Linked DNA regions of Homo sapiens: region 2 is linked to region 1. Evidence: fine-mapped expression QTL. A gene starts in region 1. The other region holds a variant in brackets. All regions are shown on one strand. Distances are from middle to middle. Region 1 holds the start of SAMM50 (SAMM50 sorting and assembly machinery component). Region 2 overlaps SAMM50 (SAMM50 sorting and assembly machinery component).

What was found. PIP is the estimated chance that this variant, and not a neighbour inherited with it, causes the effect. A credible set is the group of variants that fine-mapping cannot tell apart.
Region 2: its variant is the best candidate, but not a certain one, in a credible set for the expression of SAMM50 in blood mononuclear cells (TOPMed, PIP 0.79).

The regions. Positions count from the first base shown.
Region 1 is chr22:43,952,710-43,958,235 of GRCh38, reverse strand. SAMM50 (SAMM50 sorting and assembly machinery component) reads right to left here and starts at 2,794. Exons shown (of 15, transcript NM_015380.5): 1 at 2,638-2,794. The coding sequence starts at 2,658. It also overlaps the pseudogene RPL35AP36. RefSeq lists enhancers at 2,050-2,259, 2,065-2,816, 2,940-3,019, 3,100-3,149, 2,817-3,569 and a silencer at 2,702-2,976.
Region 2 is chr22:43,987,967-43,992,966 of GRCh38, reverse strand. It overlaps SAMM50 (SAMM50 sorting and assembly machinery component), which reads right to left. Exons shown (of 15, transcript NM_015380.5): 13 at 3,710-3,856; 14 at 2,561-2,702. Among named protein-coding and RNA genes, the nearest start is that of PARVB, 34 kb to the left of the region's middle. The variant G/A (reference allele first, on the strand shown) is at 2,566.

The DNA of each region.
Region 1 (5,526 bases):
CAAAGGAAATGGCACGGAAAGGCGAAGCCCATCCAAATGCAGGGGATAAAGAACTTTCAGAACGGAGTTCTAAAAGATGGGAATATTTTGATGCTAAAGATGGATGATGGGAGGGGGAATGAAGTGCAATAGTGCGGTCCAAATAAAGCCATCCTCACAGGGCTAACAAGAATTCTGGACAAAGGCCAGGCGTGGTGACTCATGCCTGTAATCTCAGCACTTTGGAAGGCCGAGGCAGGCGGATCACAAGGTCAGGAGATCGAGACCATCCTAGCTAACAGTGAAACCCCGTCTCTACTAATACAAAAAATTAGCCGAACATGGTGGCAGGCGCCTGTGGTCCCAGCTATTCAGGAGGCTGAAGCAGGAGAATGGTGTGAATCTGGGAGGTGGAGCTTGCAGTGAGCCAAGACCGTGCCACTGCACTCCAGCCTGGGCACAGAGCAAGACTCTGTCTCAACAACAACAAAAAAAATTATTCTGGACATCTGGACAGAAATGTAGTTATAATTGGCTGGGCGCAGTGGCTCACACCTGTAATCTCAGCACTTTGGGAGGCCGAGGCGGGATGATCACTTGAGGTCAGGAGTTCAAGACCAGCCTGGCCAACATGATGAAACCCCCGTCTCTACTAAAAATACAAAAATTGGCTGGGTGTGGTGGCGTGCGCCTATAATCCCAGCTACATGGGAGGCTGAGGCAGGAGAATCGCTTGAACCTGGGAGGCGGAGGTTGCAGTGAGTGGAGATTGCACCATTGCACTCCAGCCTGGGCAACACAGTGAGACTCCATCTCAAAAGAAATGTAGTTACAATTAACCATTAATCAAGTTGCCTTTTTTTTTTCAAGAGCACAAATCCACATTGATTTATTGACTTTTCATTAGTTTAAATCCTTGAGGGGTACAGCATTACTCGGATTCTGTGTCCAACAGCCTTAGCAGGAAGATTGCTTCAGAATTTGGCACGAATCATGCCATTGTTTCTGTGGGCCCGAGTTACCTTTCCCCAGATTACTCTGGCTTTGTTTGATTTGCCGCCAGGAGTCACTATGTTGTTCTTTGCTTTGTATACATGAGCCCAAATAGAATTCTGTTTCATCTCGGGCATAAACACCTTCAATTTTAAGAAGAGCTGTGTGCTCCCTTTGGTTCCGGAGACTCCACTTATAGCCAGCAAAAATGGCCTTGGACCACAGCCTTCCAGACATATTTCCTTTCAGAAGTCCTGCTCCCGGCAGGCCGCCACAGGAGCCAAGATGGCAGGAAGAGCTCAGGTTGCACTCTGACCTACTTGCTAGTAACCAAAAGTCACAGATACTATTTGCATCCCCATTGATTTTACAGATAGGATTTCTAAAATTAGAATCATAAGGCTTTTGCTTAAGAGTTGCTTTAGATGTTTTTCAGATCTCGAATTCCAGCAAAACTGATGCTGCCAACCAGTTTGAAGACTCCTCCCCGCAACAGAGGAACGGAATCAGCATGAGAAGTTTCCTCATCTCCCTGTCCCATAACTTCACCCTTCACTCTTCCACCAATCAAGGATCTCCACACTTCAGCAAAAACATGAGGTCCAAACTCCTGAAGGAGATGGATTTGAGGTTTCCTCTCTTTTCCCATCTCCTCGTTCAGCGGCCCTGCAACTGAAACTCTTTCTCTGCTGCAACCCACTGTCTGAGTGTATTGACTTATCGAGCACACTGAGCAACAGACCTATTACAGTTACACAAAGAGATGTCAGAAGAGAAACGGTGTTTGATCTGAATGAAAGACATATAAAGGGAAGTTAAGTCCAATTATCGATGTCAGGCTGCGACTTCTGTGCTAAATTTTTTTGGAAGTTAATGGGGAACTACTGAAAACGTCTATGCAGGTCAAGTGAAGCAATCAAAGTTGCAGTAGAAAAGTAGTGTTGGGGCTGAGACTCAGGAAATCTGAGGTTTTAGGCCATTTGGAACCAGTAACTATGTGACCTTGGAGAAGTAACTCATTATCTGGCCCTTATTTAAGATTAGGATAAACGAGAGGAGTTTGGCAACCAGTACAGTTAGTCAGGCGCCAGGCACCCAAGTATTCACATGCATTGTCTTTTAATTCTCTTTTAAGCCAGGCGAGGTAGGTACTATTACTACCTCCACTTTAAAACAGGAAGTAAGGCAGAGAGCGGTTCCGTCTTTTGCACGGTAGACAGGAGAAAAGAGGACCCCTAGATAGGTTTGAGTTAGAAGACTTCAAAGGATTCTTGTTGCTCTAGGAGCCTACAATGGCTCCAGCAGCGGCTGAGCGGGGAAAGGCTGGAAGTGACCAGTAAAGAGAGAAAACTTAAAATCATGCAAAGAAAGAGCACATTCACTGCGGTCTAAGACATCACAGAAAGTTGGCAAGTCCTTTGGGCCACGGACTCGCCGAGTGACCTTTAGCCAAGTCTCGTCCCTCCTATCAGGTTCCTGCTCGAAGGTCTGCAAGACTCGCTGGCCCGAGGCGACCTCTTTTCGGCCTCCTCCACCCAGCCCGGCACCCTTGGCACCCTCTCTCCCGGTGAACCCTGGGCGCAGCCACGAGAGCGTCTCCCCGCGGCGCCCGTCTGCCCTGCTGGCCCAGAGGCCTCGCAGCCCGCGGGTCGCTGGGCCTCTTACCCGGGCGTGCACAGTCCCCATGGTTCCCTCTCCAGCCGCTGCCTCGCAGAGCTGCCCGGGCGGGACAGAGCGTCTGCTGCTGAGGGCAGAAGGCGGGTCCGCGGTGGCGGAGCTGCAGGTCAAGGCAACTCCCACAAACCCCCGGACGCGGAACACTGGGGGCGGCCATGATTCCCCGCCTTCTCCGCGCCCCCTGGCTCGCGATGCCTTCGCTCATTGGTCCTTATGCGCCTGTGACCCGGATGTTCACACGGCCGCGGAGGACGTTCTGACTGCGCAAGCGAAGAGCGTTCACTGACATCCGCGAAGCTGCTGGCGCGTGGACTGTGTGGGGAGGGCGCGTGGGGTGAAGGTGGGTCTGCGAGAGGGTCCGCTGGGAGGCTGGCGTCTGGCGTTGGCGCCTGAAAGAGATCAGACCAGCTGTTGGGTGTCACTCAAGTCCTGCTGCTCTTAGCCCTCCTAGCACCCCCGACCCGAGGGTGCTGTGCTTGTGCCCACGCGCCGGTGAAGCCCCGAGACTCAGCGGGGAGACCCCGGGTCCGGCCACCCCCGAGCTGCAGTAGTCGGGTCTCACCGGCATCTGCTACACAAACCCGGATTGGTGCCCTGGCTCCTTTCGTTCAAGTCATTGGAACCCCCACTCAAAATCGTCAAAATGAAGACGATGGTCGTGTCTCCTTCTTGGGGGTTGGATTAAAAGGGCCTAATGTGAGAGACGGAAAGCAAAGCTCCCGGCACCGGGCCGGGCACACGGTGGGCGCTAGATAATGACCGCTATTCACTCAACTGCAGCCAGTAATTATGGGCGAGGGCCATCTAGGTGCTTGCATGAGAACCAGTCATATCGGTGAAGAAGACGGCCATGGGCTTAGGTTTTGGTGGCAAAACAGCTCCCCTGCCCCAAAAAAGAAAAGAGAATAGAAAAGAAAAAGGCATAATAAATATCAGCCACACATTGTGATAAGTATATTGAAAGAAACGAGACAGAATAAGAAAAGAGGAAGCTTCAGTATCCTGTCACGTTGCCACTCCCTTCTGATAACAGAAGCATCTTTTCTTCTGTCCCCTTACTCCCTCCCAGAAACCCTGACACCCTTTCCATTTAAATAGCAGCACCCTAGGCCTCCAACATCCCTGAGCTAAATATTCAAGTCCACATGTCCCTTCTTGCCTGGAAAGAGACAGAACCCAGCACCAGCCAGGCCCCTGCCCTTCCCTCACTCTCAGTTCCCTGAGCCTCAATTCCTTATCTGTAAAATGGAAATGATAGCCTAAGGCATAAGGTCTGAGGACCTCATGAGATCAAGCATGGGGCCTGGCACTCTGTAAACATCGAATCAACCAGATTTTCTTTGCCCAAACAGCCCTCTTTTCTTACACTTTCTTCCTCGTTATTCTTCTGAGTATGCCACTTGTAAAGGATAAGCCATGAGGTTGCCCTGCAGAGTGCAAGATGGTTGCAATATTTGAGAGCCTATTGTGTGTGAGGCCCTGGAGGATGGCAGAGGGAACAGGAGGAAAACAAAGTCACATGCTTTACCCTCAAACAAAGGGCTGTCTGCGATAGTTACAATGTATATATTAAAGGCTATCTGTGATAGTTACAATGTATATAATATATTAAAGGCTGTCTGTGGTAGTTAACAATGTGTATATTAAAGGCTGTGATAGTTACAATGGGTATACTATATTAAAGGCGGTGGTAGTTACAATGTATATAATATATTAAAGGCTGTGATAGTTACAATGTACATAATATATTAAAGGCTGTGATAGTTATAATGTATATATTAAAGGCTGTCTGTGATGGTTATAATGTATATAATATATTGAAGGCTGTCTGTGATGGTTATAATGTATATAATATACTGAAGGCTGTCTGTGATAGTTAAGATGTATATATTAAAGGCTGTCTGTGATGGTTACAATGTATATAATAAAGACTGAGAAGTCTCACAGTGCATATACTGGTTTCCTTCTCTTTAACCCAGTATTTCTTGAATTTATTGGGTCATAGAGATTTTTGGTTTTGGAGATTTTTCTGTGGCCTCTGGCAATGCTATTCAACAGTATTTCTTGTGCTCCTCTTTTGGGCACAAGAGAGGATTGCATCTCCCTGCTCCCATCCATGTGACTTGCTTTGGTCAACACATTGTGAGCAGAAGAGAGATGTGCCACTCTGGATGAGAACCTTTAAGAACCATATTTCTCTAACCATGCCATGGCAATCAGCGATCCCCCAATGGTGGGGCACCTACAGGCTAGGTCTGGGAGTGAGGACGACTTAAAATGAAGCCCAGCCACATTTGCTGGACATACAGCACGAATGAGAAATAAACCTTTTGGGTTTTGCTTGTTAATGCAGCATAACTCAGCCTATCCTATATGATAATACCAGCTAGAAACATCTTCAAGGAAACCAGCATCCCAGAAAACCTGGTTTACAAAGTGCCAATCTTGTCCAATCAGAAGTAGAAGTGCAGTTTAGTGACTAAGCTAGTTTCCTTAATACAATCCAGGCTGAGTGCAATGGCTCATACCTATAATCTCAGCACTTTGGGAGGCCGAGGCAGGAGGATTGCTTGAGCCCAGGAGTTCAAGATCAGCCTAGGAAACACACCCCATCACTACAAAATAAAAATAAAAAATAAAAAAAATAGCTGGGCATAGTAGCAAGCACCTGTAGTCCCAGCTACTCCAGAGGCTGAAGCAAGAGGATTGCTTGAGTCCAGGAGTTCAAGATCAGCCTGGAAAACAGTGAGACCCCATCTCTACCAAAAAAAAAAAAAAATGTTTTTAATTAGCTTTTAATTTATTTAATTAAAACCTCCTCAGGAAGCTGAAGGAGGAGGATTGCTTGAGCCCAGGAGGTCAAGGCTGCAGTGAGCT
Region 2 (5,000 bases), 35 kb before region 1:
ATGCAGTCTCGCTCTGGAAAAAGGTGCCCACTTTTTCACTTTATTATCTCCAAAATCAGGATGCATCATCCCATCTATGGCTTGTCACAAACTGTTAGCTGAGATGATGTGGAGGGGGAGGGGCAACACCTCCCACAGGAACCTGTTCCCTTGTGTGAGGGGCTGGCCACGCCGGGTGTATCAGCAGCAGAGCAGCCCAGGAAAAATAACCACTTCCCAACCCCAGGCCAGGCGGTGCGCCAAGGGCTCTGCATGCAGTAACTCACTGAGTTCTCCAAACTGCAACAGTCACCATCATGATCGTCCATCCTCTGGGCATGAAAATGGACACCCAGAGAGGTTTTGTGACTCACCCCGGGCCACACAGTCACACAGAGTGGCCAAGCTGGGCCCCAAGCCCGGGTAGCTGGGCCCCCAGGCACACATGCATGCAGCCTGCGTGACTACACCCTTTCCAGCTTGGGCTTTGTGTGGAGAACAGGAGAGGCGTGGAGGGGAATGGGAGCTGGCGGTTGTGGGAGCAGCCGCCGCCATCTCTGAAGGCCCTGTCATCAGTAGGGAGCCGCAGCAGCCTGGCAGCCCCTGCCGTGTCCCCAGACGCGGAGCAGATGCTGAAGGGCCTTCTGGCAAGAGTGTAAGGAGCAGATTCCGCTGAAGCAATAACCGTAAAGGACCTGAATGACAGACGCAGACTGCACCTGAGAGGCGATGCTCAGAAACACTTGCGAATGCGGCTCCCCTTTACAAAGCACCATCCCCTACATGCTGATGCGGAAGACGGAGAGAGTAAAAATGATACAGCATTTCCTTCAACTGGCACAAACTACAACCTATTTGAAACCGGGTTAAGCCTCCAACAGCACCACCATTTGGTGGCAACATAAAGGTAGACACAAAAATGAAGAGAAAAAACAGGCTGGGGTGCTGTGAATGCATATACAAAAATAAGAGACAGTATGAACACTGTTGTGGACTGAACATTCATGTCCCCACAAGATTCACATGCTGAAGCCCTAACCCTGACAGGATGGTGTTGATACCTGGAGGCAGGCCTTTGGGAGGTGCTGAGGTGCAGACGAGGTAACGAAGATGGGGCCCTCGTGATGGAATTAGGGGCCGCATAAGAAGAGGCATCGGGGCACTGGCCTGCACTCTTCCTCCTCCAAGTGAGGACACAGTGGCAAGGCTGCCATCTGCGAGCCAAGAAGAGAACCCAACAGCAACCAAATCTGCCAGCACCCTGATCTTGGACTTTCCAACCTCCAGAACTGGCAGAGTATGAACATCTGTTGTTTAAGTCACTCTTAAATACTCCATGGTATTTTGTGATGGCAGCCTGAGCTGACCGAGATACACTATAATGAAAACACGTCTGAATCTCTTAAAATTTACACAACGCAGCTGGGTGCGGTGGCTCATACCTGTAATCCCAGTACTTTGGGAGGCCAATGCGGGCAGATGGCTTGAGCCCAGGAATTCAAGACCAGCCTGGGTGGGCAATGTGGTAAAACCCTGTCTCTACAAAAAATACAAAAATTAGCCTGGTGTGTAGTCCCAGCTACTTGGGAGGCTGAGGCAGGGGGATCACTTGAGCCCAGGAGGTCAAGGCTGCAGTGAGCCATGGTCAGGCCATTGTACTCCAGCTGGGTGACAGAGAAAGACCGAGTCTCAAAAAAAAAAAAAAAAAAAAATGCCGGGCGTGGTGGCTCATGCCTATAATCCCAGCACTTTGGGAGGCTGAGGCAGGCAGATCACGAGGTCAGGAGTTTGACACCACCCTGACCAACATGGTGAAACCCTGTCTCTACTAAATATACAAAAAATTAGCCGGGTGTGGTGACGCATGCCTGTAATCCCAACTACTCAGGAGGCTGAGGCAGGAGAATCTCTTGAACCTGGGAGGCAGAGGTTGCAGTGAGCCAAGATCGTGCTATTGCACACCAGCCTGGGCGACAGAATGAGAGTCTGTCTCAAAAAAAAAAAAAATTTTACACAATGCATGTAAGAAATAGAATTTGTTTATATAACTGTGTAACTAGCCCTATACCATATTCACCCATGTAACATTTAGGGAATCTTTCCTCAATAAAATAAGGGGTGAAGAAAAGCCAAGAAGGTGGGTTCCTCTGCTGTAGAGAGAGGGGTTCTCAAGATCGTGTCCTCTGTGGTCAGGAACAAAGCTTCACTCACCCCAACTTTCCTAGAGACCCTGGCCTGCAAAGTCAACTGCTCAAAACACTGCCTTCTGTTTTCAGCACACAGGAACCAAATCACCTGTCAATTCCTCCAGCCAGACCCTGGCAGGGGCTCCCACTACCCTGGGAACAATAAGCACAAAGCACCTGAGGGAGGGGGTGGGAACGCTTCACACCTGCTCCTCCCAGCTAGATGGAGAAAAACGCAAAGGAGGAAAATACATGTGTTTTCATTATTTTGCAACTATTTAATTCTCTTAAAATCTTCAAGCTTAAAAGCCACTAATGAAATTAACCACGTCCAAAACAAAATAAAATTACTGGAGAGTGGGATGTGATTGTGGAAAATAATTCCCAACACGTACCTGTC[G/A]CCTGTCTGTACTCCCATGGGGACGCAGTAATTAAGTTCCAACCGAGCGATGTTGCCAAGCCTGAGGACAATCCCGGCCCCGTACGACCAGCGGATGCACTCAGCCAGCTTACGAATATGAGCTTTGGGGCCCTCCCCTGAAAAGAGAAAGACCTGTGAGCAACAGTGCGTGCCCGTCCTTCCAAGCTCTCCCAGCTCTCCCAGACAAGCCCTGGCTCCCCCTGGCTGGGCCCTGCAGTTGTTTTTAAAGCCAGGCCTAGAGATTAGGGAGGATGCATGAAGTGAGATTAGGACCCAGGTCAAGAGAGGACTTGGAGCCACACTTACTCACATCCAGAATGAGCCACGCCTTCTCAATTCTTTGGGCCTGGCATATTCTGTTCCCTCTGCTTAGAATGACTTTTCCCCATCCCCTGACCACCTGGGAAGCCCCACTCTGAGTCTCAGCTTGGAGACTTCCATGCCTTCTAGGAAGCTTTCCAGGCACCCCTAGCACCCAGGCATCTGCTGGGAGTCTCTTCTGGACCTGAACTCCCTGAGGAAGGCACCCAATCCTACTCAGCTCTGTGGCCATCATGACTTGTTTATTAAATAGACAAACAGATTTTTCTTCGTAAGGGCATTAGATGATTATTTTTCTTGTATGCTTCATTCGCTCAACCAACCACTTAATGCTGGGCATTATGTTAGCTGTTGTAAGAATTTTTTTCAAGTAAGGCACAGTCTCTAACTTTAATGACTATGTAATCTAAAAAGACAGACATGGCCTGGCACGGTGGCTCACACCTGTAATCCCAGCACTTTGGGAATCCAAGGGGGGTGTGGATCACGAGGTCAAGAGATCGAGACCATCCTGGCCAACATGGTGAAATCTCGTCTCTACTAAAAATACAAAAAATTAGCCGGGCGTGATGGCACGCGCCTGTAGTCCCAGCTACTCGGGAGGCTGAGGCAAGAGAGTCACTTGAACCCAGAAGGTGGAGGTTGCAGTGAGCCGAGATTGCGCCACTGCACTCCAGCCTGGCAATAGAGCGAGACTCCATCTCAAAAAAAAAAAAAAAAGACAGACACCTCTTTGTGTACTGTGCTTTTAAACATGAAAACAACTGTACTACAATGGTTTCTTGAATAGCGCAAGTTTTACCATAGTTGAGGTTGCAGAGGTTTCCTGCGTTGAGAAAGAAGTGTGTTCGGAAAAGTTCTCCAAAGCCACCCTGGCCTGGCCGGAAAGGTAATGGGGTGTAGAGGTGCAGGCCGCCGGCCCAGTACGCTTCTCCACCTAGGTAGTCTCCTAAGCAAAGGAGGGGTGCAGAACAAAAACAAGGTCCGACAAGGTTAACATCACGTTAACTTTCCACAACTTACAGAAGCAAGATTTCTGTCCTGTAAACAACGCCACACAGTGCTGGAGTTTGCAAGCAGCTGTTCTTCTCATTCCTGATACTGATGGCCTCATTTTAAATAATCTTTCTTTTTCTCCTGGTTTGTTTCACACCTTGATTTAACTGAGGAGGCAAACAAAGCCAATGTCGTTGAGGAAGGAATGCACTCTGTCATTCATCGTATCTGTGAAATGCTTTGAAGAAATGAGTCTCATGACAATAACTTTATCCACAAATGTAGATGACCAACTCACTTCCACCTGCAAATGAAATGCATTATTTTGCCAAATTTTCGAGAGCGCAATAGAGACAAAATGCAGAAAGCGTCTCTGCAGTGTGTGGAGACAGCTGCACATGATTAATCAAAAGGCAGAGGCTGCCTGCCACCCACTGCACAGCGAGACCAGGTTCCAGCTCAGTGTCTCCAGAGAAGAGACAATTCTCAACGGTTCATGACCGCTTGGATTTAGGTTACTTTTGCCAAAGTGTAAGCCTATCCACTGAGAGCATGTATTTGCATATTTCTAAAAACGTTCCTGTCCATTCCATTTTAAACTATAAAGCAACAGAAAACATACAACCCAAAGGTTTATACTTTGTTGCAAAATACCATTTATACAGTGTCTTACTCTCCTCTAATACAAAATGACAGACCATGAAATGGGAAAATACTGATGTCTTCAAGACTAACTTCAAGGAATGAACTGCTGATTCATTTAAAGACTTCAGTTCCTCACAATCCAGAGGAAGGAAAAAAAAGACACCAACATCTCCTTAATCCCTTTCAACACGAGAGCTCTGATGGGAACAGAGAATGAACAAATTGCAGGAGAACAACCTTGTTTTTTGTTTCCCAGAAACCACTCCTCCTCTCTCTTCTTAAATAACTGATTTTATTCTGAACATAAAAGTTAAATATACTCATTGTAGAACATCTGATCAACATAAAGAGAAAAAAATGAAAATATTTTAATTTCTACCATTCAGAAATAAACAGCTAACATCCTGATGTCCTTTCTTCCAGTGGATTATAATGTAAATGTAAAACCAAAT